Linked DNA regions of Homo sapiens. Each later gene encodes a partner of the first gene's protein in a complex. Each region holds a gene or a part of one and is shown in the gene's direction. Other genes may lie near its edges.

Region 1 (3,748 bases):
GCAGGTTTCTTCTAGTAAGCCACCCTTTTGAGAATTACTCAGCATGCTCACTTCTGGGAGCTTACTGGCATGTTTGCTTGCAAATGGTGGTGCTGTACCAGAGAAATTTGAGTACCTGTGTTTCTAGATTGTGGTATTTTGTGATGCTGAGCTGTTTGTCCTATATTCTGGGGGTAGAGCCACATAAAAAGCCTCCACACCTTTCTTAGAATGTTCTCTTGATTAAATACATTAAGCCAGTTTGACTAGTAGGATACTTGTCATTGTGATTTGTCATGCCACAAACTTTATTTTTAAAGTTGTCTTCAGATAAAACAAAAAAGTGCTATGTTTGTTTAACTAGTTGGCTTTCTTTTTTTTTTTTTTTTTTTTTTGTGACAGAGTCTCACTCTATCACCCAGGCTGGAGTGCAGTGGCGGGATCTGGGCTCACTGCAACCTCTGCTGCCCAGGTTCAACCGATTCTCCTGCCTCAGCCTCCCAAGTAGCTGGGATAACAGGCGCCTGCCACCCCGCCCAGCTAATTTTTGTATTTTTAGTAGAGACTGGGTTTCACCATCTTGGCCAGGATGGTCTTGAACTCCTGACCTCGTGATCCACCTGCCTCGGCCTCCCTAAGTGCTGGGATTACAGGCATGAGTCACTGCACCCAGCCCACTACTTGGCTTTCCGTTTTCTTTTTTTCTTTTTTTTTGAGTGTTGTCAGAACTACCAATAGGTAAAATATAATTCTCAGGTAGTCTATACAATTCTCCCTGCCAGTCCCCTGTACTTTTCCTGGTATTTACAATGTTAAAGCTTTTAAGGACACGTCACCTATAACTCTGGGAGTCTGGCTTTCAGGGAGTGCTTTGTATTAACTGTTGCCGTGATGGCCAAAAGTACCAGCTCCCTGACATTCCGTTATTTCTACCACAACGGAGTAGTCCCGCGATAGGAAGTAACTCAACTTAAAATGGTAGTGTTACGTAAACTGTCTTCAGCCTGGTACATCTTTCACTGGGATTTTACCTGTACAGAGAGCTTTGGTAACCTAGTTTACCATTAGACCATAATTAAAAGCTGGTTGTCATATATAAGCCTCTTACATACAGTTAATAAGAGGGATGGGATCACAGGCATGTGAAAGATCATAGGGGGAAAATGAAACAGCTTTGTGGTTTGGAAGAAGGCAATTCAGCAAAAGTACTCAAATTATTACTTTGTCAAAATGTTTAGGTAGTATTTAGAGTCTTCATGAGGAAAGATGTCATTAAATATTTGGTTGTTCCCAGCAGATTCTGACTTACTGTTTATTTTTTAAGTTAACCTATCATTTGTTGACACTTTTTATTGAAAAATTGAAAGGCAAAACAATATTTGCTATGTATGACATCTACCAGTATGTGAAATTGTATATTCAGGTGCTTAATATTCTGATGTTGTATACTTGTGGGTGGGGGTAGTCCTGAAGTGCCCACTTTGTATTGAAACTTGAAATTACTGTTTTTCAGTCTCATTCATTGTTCTGCACAAGAGCATAATCAGAATTCAGATTTCTGATTATGGCTTTCCAGTGCCAAATGTTATTTTGCTGTCCATATGGGTTATATCTCTCTGTACTTCATCACCCCAAAAAGAAACTCTGTACTCATTAGCAGTCACTCTCCATCCTGCTTCCCTGTCAGCCCCTGGCAACCACTAATCTTTCTGTTTCTATGAATTTACTTACTCTGGACATTTCATATAAATAAGAACATACATATGTGGTCTTCTGGGGCTGGCGTCTTTTACTTAGTATAATGTTTTCAAGGTTCGTTCATGTTGTAGCATATGTCGCTTCTTCCTGTTTAGTGCTGACTAATATTCTGTCATGTGAGTATACCACATTTTTTCTATGCATTTGTCAATTGGATATGTGGGTGGTTTCTTTTCTTTCTTTTTTTTTTTGGCTATTATTTTTTATTTATTTACTTTTCTGAGGCAGGGTCTTGCTCTGTTGCCCAGGCTGGAGTGCAGTGGAGCTATCATGGCTCACTGCAGTGTCAACCTCCTGGACTCAAGTGATCCTCCTGCCTCAGCTTCCCGAGTAGCTAGGACTGCAGGTGTGCGCCATCACACCCAGCTAGTTTTTTTATTTTTTTGTAGAGGTGGGAACCTTGCTTTGTTGCCCAAGCTGGTCTTGAACTCTTGACCTCAAGCAATCCTCTGGTCTCAGTCTCCCAGTGTTGGGATTACAGGTGTGAGACACCACTTGGAGCTCTACTTTCTGGCTACTATGAATAATAATGTTTTGAACATTCCTGTACAAGCTTTTATGTAGACATGTTTTCATTTCTCTTGGGTACATTCCTAGGAGTGGAATTGCTGGGTCATTATGGTTAACTCTGTGCTTAATATTTTGAAGAACTGTCAGATTTTTTCCAGAACAGCTGCACAATTTTATATTCCCATCAGCAATGTATGAGGGTTTAATTTTCTCCACATTCTCGTCAACAATTGTTACACTGCCTTTTTCATTTTAGCCATCCTATTGGGTGTGAAGTGGTATCATAGGATTTGCAAATAATTTCTCCTGTCTGTGGGTTGTCCTTTTACCTTCTCGATGGTGTCCTTCAAAGCAGAAAGTTTTTAATTTGAAGGCCGATATATCTATTTTTCTCCTGCCACTTATGCTTTTGGTGTCACATCTTAGAAGCCATTGCCTAATCCAAGGTCATATAGATTTACTACTATATTTTCTTCTAGATATTTTATCCTGTTAACTCTTACATTAGATCTGTGATCTATTTGTGGTTAATATTTGTATATGATGTGAGGGAGGGATAGAACTTTATACTTTTGCATGTGGATATCAAGTTGCCCTAGCTTCTTTTGTTAAAATAATGTTCTTTCTTCATTGAATTCCCTTGTCCGAGATGAAGTGACCGTCAATAGAAGAACTCACTCATTCCATTGATCTGTATGTCTGTCCTGCCAGTACCATACGATCTTGATTACTGTAGTTTTGTAGCTGGTTTTTAAATAGGGGCATATGAGTCCTCTAACTTTATTATTTCTGAAGATGTTTTTGGGTATTCTCAGTCCCTTGCATTTCCATATTGAATTTTAGGACTAGATTGCCAGTTTCTGCCAAAAAAGCAACTGCAATTTTGATAAGGTGTTTCACGGTTTTGCAGGTATCTTTTAATGTCTTAACAGCTGGATTCTCATCTCTGCTCCTGAATTCATTCCCTTAACGTTATTTTAATGAAGTAAGGAGTACTTGAATAGTTTTTCAGGTAGTTGAATATTCTTTGATACCGAAACTTCATAAGTGATAGTTTGCAAAGAATAGTTACACTATGCAATCTGAAATCATATTGATGAATTTGCCCAACTCCGCAGGTCTGCTTTATACTTGGAATGGATCTTCTACCATGCCTGGTTTTGTAGCGTTACTGGTCATTTGGAAAATATTTGTTCATCGTTACGCAGATCTTCCACATGTTGACACATTTTATTATACAAGCATTTTTAAAAATCACATTTGTTAATATCACCACCAATCTCTGCAAAGTCTTAAGTTTTAGAACACTGTTCGCTATGAGTGGTGCAAGTTTTCCAAAATTCTAATTTCCTCCTTGAGTTCAAATAATTTCCTTGGCAACATGCTACCAGTTTTTACTTGAATTGACTGTTTTGTTTCTTTAATTTCCAAGAAAATGTCTGCCAGCTATTCACATTTGCAATAATGATAGTTTGTCATCATTCTTGCAAGTAAAAAAGGC
Region 2 (3,748 bases), on another chromosome or scaffold:
TGCTGGCAAAGGCGTAAATTGGTACAATCATTTTGAAAAACTGGCAATGTCTACTATCACTGATCATGTGCATACCCTCCCTACACACTAGCAATTCCTCTCCTAGAAATGTGTGCAAGTGTCTACAAAAAGAAACATGTAAGAATGCTCACTACGGCTTTGCTAATAATAGTCCAAAAAATAACAACCCAAATGCCCGCCAACAGTGGAAAAGATAAATTGTGGTATAAACATACAACAGAATACTATTCAGCAATTAAAAGGCTACACACAACATGGATGAATTTCACAAAAATACTGATAAAGTAAAAAAGCCAGACACATACTGTACATACTGTATTATTATATTTAACTGGAATTCAAGAACAGAGAAAACTGATCTATGGTGATACAGTCAGAAGAGTGATTATCTCAATATGTAAGGATGTAATACTGATTGGGAGGGAGCACTAAGTGTGCTAGAAATGTTCTATATCTTGATTTGGGTAGTGGCGACAGGGGTGTATACCTATGTGAAAATTGTTCCCATACTGTATGTTACACCTCATTAACAAAAAAAAAACTTTTTTAACATGGAAAAAAAATTCAAGTTCAAATGCCACCTTGTCCATTAAAGTTTTGCCAGCTGCAATGAACCTTTTCATCAGGGCCTCCTTAGCATTCTGATGTCATTTCTTTATGCCATTTTATCACACTCCATCTTGAATCTCAGTGGAGTCTCCTTATTTCCCTAAATATATGTTCATCTTCCTGGTGGCAGTGACCATGTCCTTCACCTTTTACCCACTCAGTGCCTGACAAATAACAGGCTGAAAAGATATTTGTTGAATTACATGGAAGAAAAAATTGGGTGAGTTCCCAGATGGGTGAAAGTGGGGACAGGCAGAGGAAGGAAGGCCAAGAGAAGGACAGAGGAGGTTTCCAAGGAAACCGTGGCTCACACTGTAATTTTACCTACTTCCTGAAATCACATTAAATGTCACCTTGAGTGGCAAAAAACAAAACACCAAATCCTACCTAGGCTGAAAATAAATAAATATCACACTCCCTCACTCGCAAGAAATCCACCAAATAAATGCTACCTAATTCTGGGTGTTTCAACAGTGGATAGGAAAACCGTTCAAGGAGAATAATTCACATTGCCATGCTGCTAAAAATATCACCTCCTTAGTGTGGTGCAAAGAGTCCAGACTGCAAGTCAGCCGACTTAGGGCTGAATTCTAACTCTGCCCGAACTTGCTGTGATCTGTGGCCAATCCCTTCGCCTCTCTGGGCCTCAATTTCCTCATACGTAACAACAGGGGATAGATTAGCAAAGTCCCTTTATGTTTTGATATTCTGAGTATACAATCCATAGCTCTCCCGGTGCAAACCAGGAATACAGCAAAAAACCCTGAAATACATGTAAAAGGCGCCTCAGACCAACAAACAAGCACGATTTGAAGAAGTCATTTTGTTCTCTTTCACGGTTTAATCAGTGTTTTTGTTTGTTGTTTGCAGCCTTACCATGATTTGCAGATGTCTGAGTTCCATGTAAACAGAAGTTAACTCTCTGCGGGCTGTCATCTTCTTTTGAGGGTGAGAAGGGTCTTCCCGTTGGGTTTCAAGTCTCGGGATTCCGAAACGACCAACTCAGCGGGCGGGTTTGTGAATTTGCGCACACTGCGCGGCACACTGGAGTCTAAGTTACAGAGGAACCGAGTGCAGGGGATGCTGGGATTTGTAGTCCCCGGGCCTCTTTGTGGTGCGCTGGGATCTGTGGTCCCCCGAGTGCGCCGCTGGAATGCTGGGAAATGTAGTCTCTGTCGCGTCGCACAGTGCAACTCAGCTGCCGTCTCAGACGGCTAGTGTGCTCAGTGGCTGGAGCAGGTCCCTAAAGCCTCTGCAGATCCGAAGCCAACCCTCCGCTGGGACAAACTCTAGGCAACAACACCAGATGAATATTGTGTCCTATGGGACTTCCCGGGGAGGGCCCTTCCCATTGACGTTAACAGTCCCCCTGCGAAGCCGCTGCGCGCTCCTACTGGCTGGTTGAGATGCCAATCGCCAAGGCTGGCTTTCCATTGGTTCCAGGAGGGCACTGCGAGGCTAGGGGGAAGGAGAAGGGATCAGAAGCGGGAGCTGAGGGGAGAGAGAGGCCGGTCCTGGTCTGGCCGCTGCGGCTGCTAGCCCGAGGTCTCCAAGCCGGGCTGCGGCTCCATCCTCGGCTCCTGGGCACCGTCTGCGAGGCTCCGCCGACCAGAGTGAGAAAGCCGCGGGCGGCGACCGCCGCATCATGTCAGCCAAGGACGAGCGGGCCAGGGAGATCCTGAGGGGCTTCAAACTGTATCCGTCCGGGAGCGGGGCGGGGCCGGGAGGACTTGGGAGGCGGCCGCTCACTGAGGAGACTGGCCGGGGGCGGGGGCCGCGCCAGGTGGGCCCCACAGAAGAAGGGCCGCGGGAGGGGAGAGGAAAGGAACAGCGTGCCGAGCACCCGGCGGGACCCGGCGCGAGAGGCGCCCCAAGGGGCGTCCTGAGGGAGGAAGGGGACGTTGACGGGAGCGCCGGGGGGTGGCGGGTGGAGACGGGGGAGCCTGGGGGACGGGGCTGCGAGAGGTGCCGGGCGTCGGAAACGCTGTCGGAGAAGCCGGCTGGGTTCCGATCCCCGGCCGGGACCCAGAGGCCGGGATGGGGCTGCGGCCCGCGGAGAAGGGCTGAGGGGGCGCGGTGGGCTGATCTCGAAGCCTAGAAGCCTCTTTGGCTATAAGCCTACCCGGGGAGCGGGGAACAGTGACTTGGAGCGGGCGACCTTGTGTGGGACAAATACCAGTGCTTTTAAAACTCTCTCAGGTCCCCCACCGCACCGCACCGCACCCCACCCCCGTCTGGTTTCCACAACTTCTCTTCCAAACTTGTGGCTTCTTCCAGGACTGGAGTAGTTGGGGGAGGTGGGGAAAGAGAAGTCCAAGATCGACCTCGTCTTAACACTCTTGGCCTTCTCAGGCATTGGTCACTGCTTCCCCCTCAGCGCCTCAGTTTTCTTTCCAGCAAGATGAGGACCATAGGCTTAGGTGTGGGGTGCCTCGCGCTGGGACTCCTAGCCGAGGTGTCTTTGCTCGCTCCTGTCGGTGCGGTTATGCCTAGCTGTGGTGGAGCTGTCCAGCAATGGTGTGATGTCGCTGGGGCCACGGTAGGATAGAGTGGGGTAGAGAAATCATTGCCTCGGGCCTGTTGTGGTGCCCCTTTTGCATCCTCTCCGTAAGGAAGCTTTGTGTTTTCGTGGAGTGTGTTAGTCTGTCACCATATGATGCAGATGAAAAAATGCAAACTTGGATATTCAAATTTTCCATTCTCCTGCCAACTTTAATCTCTTCATGCATCCTATCTGTAATCTATAGTACGAACGTTCTTAAATTGCTCCCTCAGTGAAAAGGTAGTCACCACTTCAGGGCTCCTCCCTTGGAGGTTTAGTAAAGCACTGTTTTCTTGGTATTCTGTTGCGTTTTCACAATGTCCATGTCACGCTTGCAAATTTAATTGCTTTGCTATAATCAGAAACCAAGTTGGTAATACATTTTAGACCACAGTGCAAAAAGGAAGTTTTGGATGTACAAGTGAGATTTTTCGAATGGAAATTGATCTATGCTTTTTAAAAAAACTAAAGGCTGTATCACCTTTGCATACTACCATCTGTGATAAACTTTCAGTACTTTCATGTTTTGGTTTAGTAGCAGCCTCTTTTATAGCTCCATGTGCCTTTCTGTGTTTC

The links.
Region 2: the proteins of RHEB (region 1) and PDE6D are in contact, whole or in part, in a crystal structure (PDB 3T5G), measured with the Homo sapiens proteins. Residues at the interface, in NP_005605.1 of Homo sapiens: Pro2, Gln3, Ser4, Gln57, Asp77, Gln176, Gly177, Lys178, Ser179, Ser180, Cys181; in NP_002592.1 of Homo sapiens: Ile53, Leu54, Cys56, Val59, Val80, Gln85, Cys86, Leu87, Glu88, Glu89, Trp90, Ile109, Glu110, Ala111, Ala112, Pro113, Gln116, Met117, Met118, Leu123, Tyr149.

The regions. Positions count from the first base shown.
Region 1 is NC_000007.14:151,513,249-151,516,996, reverse strand, and holds part of RHEB (GTP-binding protein Rheb), read left to right. Parts: intron 1-3,748. UniProt on the Homo sapiens protein: Small GTPase that acts as an allosteric activator of the canonical mTORC1 complex, an evolutionarily conserved central nutrient sensor that stimulates anabolic reactions and macromolecule biosynthesis to promote cellular biomass generation and growth.
Region 2 is NC_000002.12:231,779,642-231,783,389, reverse strand, and holds the start of PDE6D (retinal rod rhodopsin-sensitive cGMP 3',5'-cyclic phosphodiesterase subunit delta), read left to right. Parts: upstream 1-2,107; 5' UTR 2,108-2,275; coding exon 2,276-2,325; intron 2,326-3,748. UniProt on the Homo sapiens protein: Promotes the release of prenylated target proteins from cellular membranes. Modulates the activity of prenylated or palmitoylated Ras family members by regulating their subcellular location.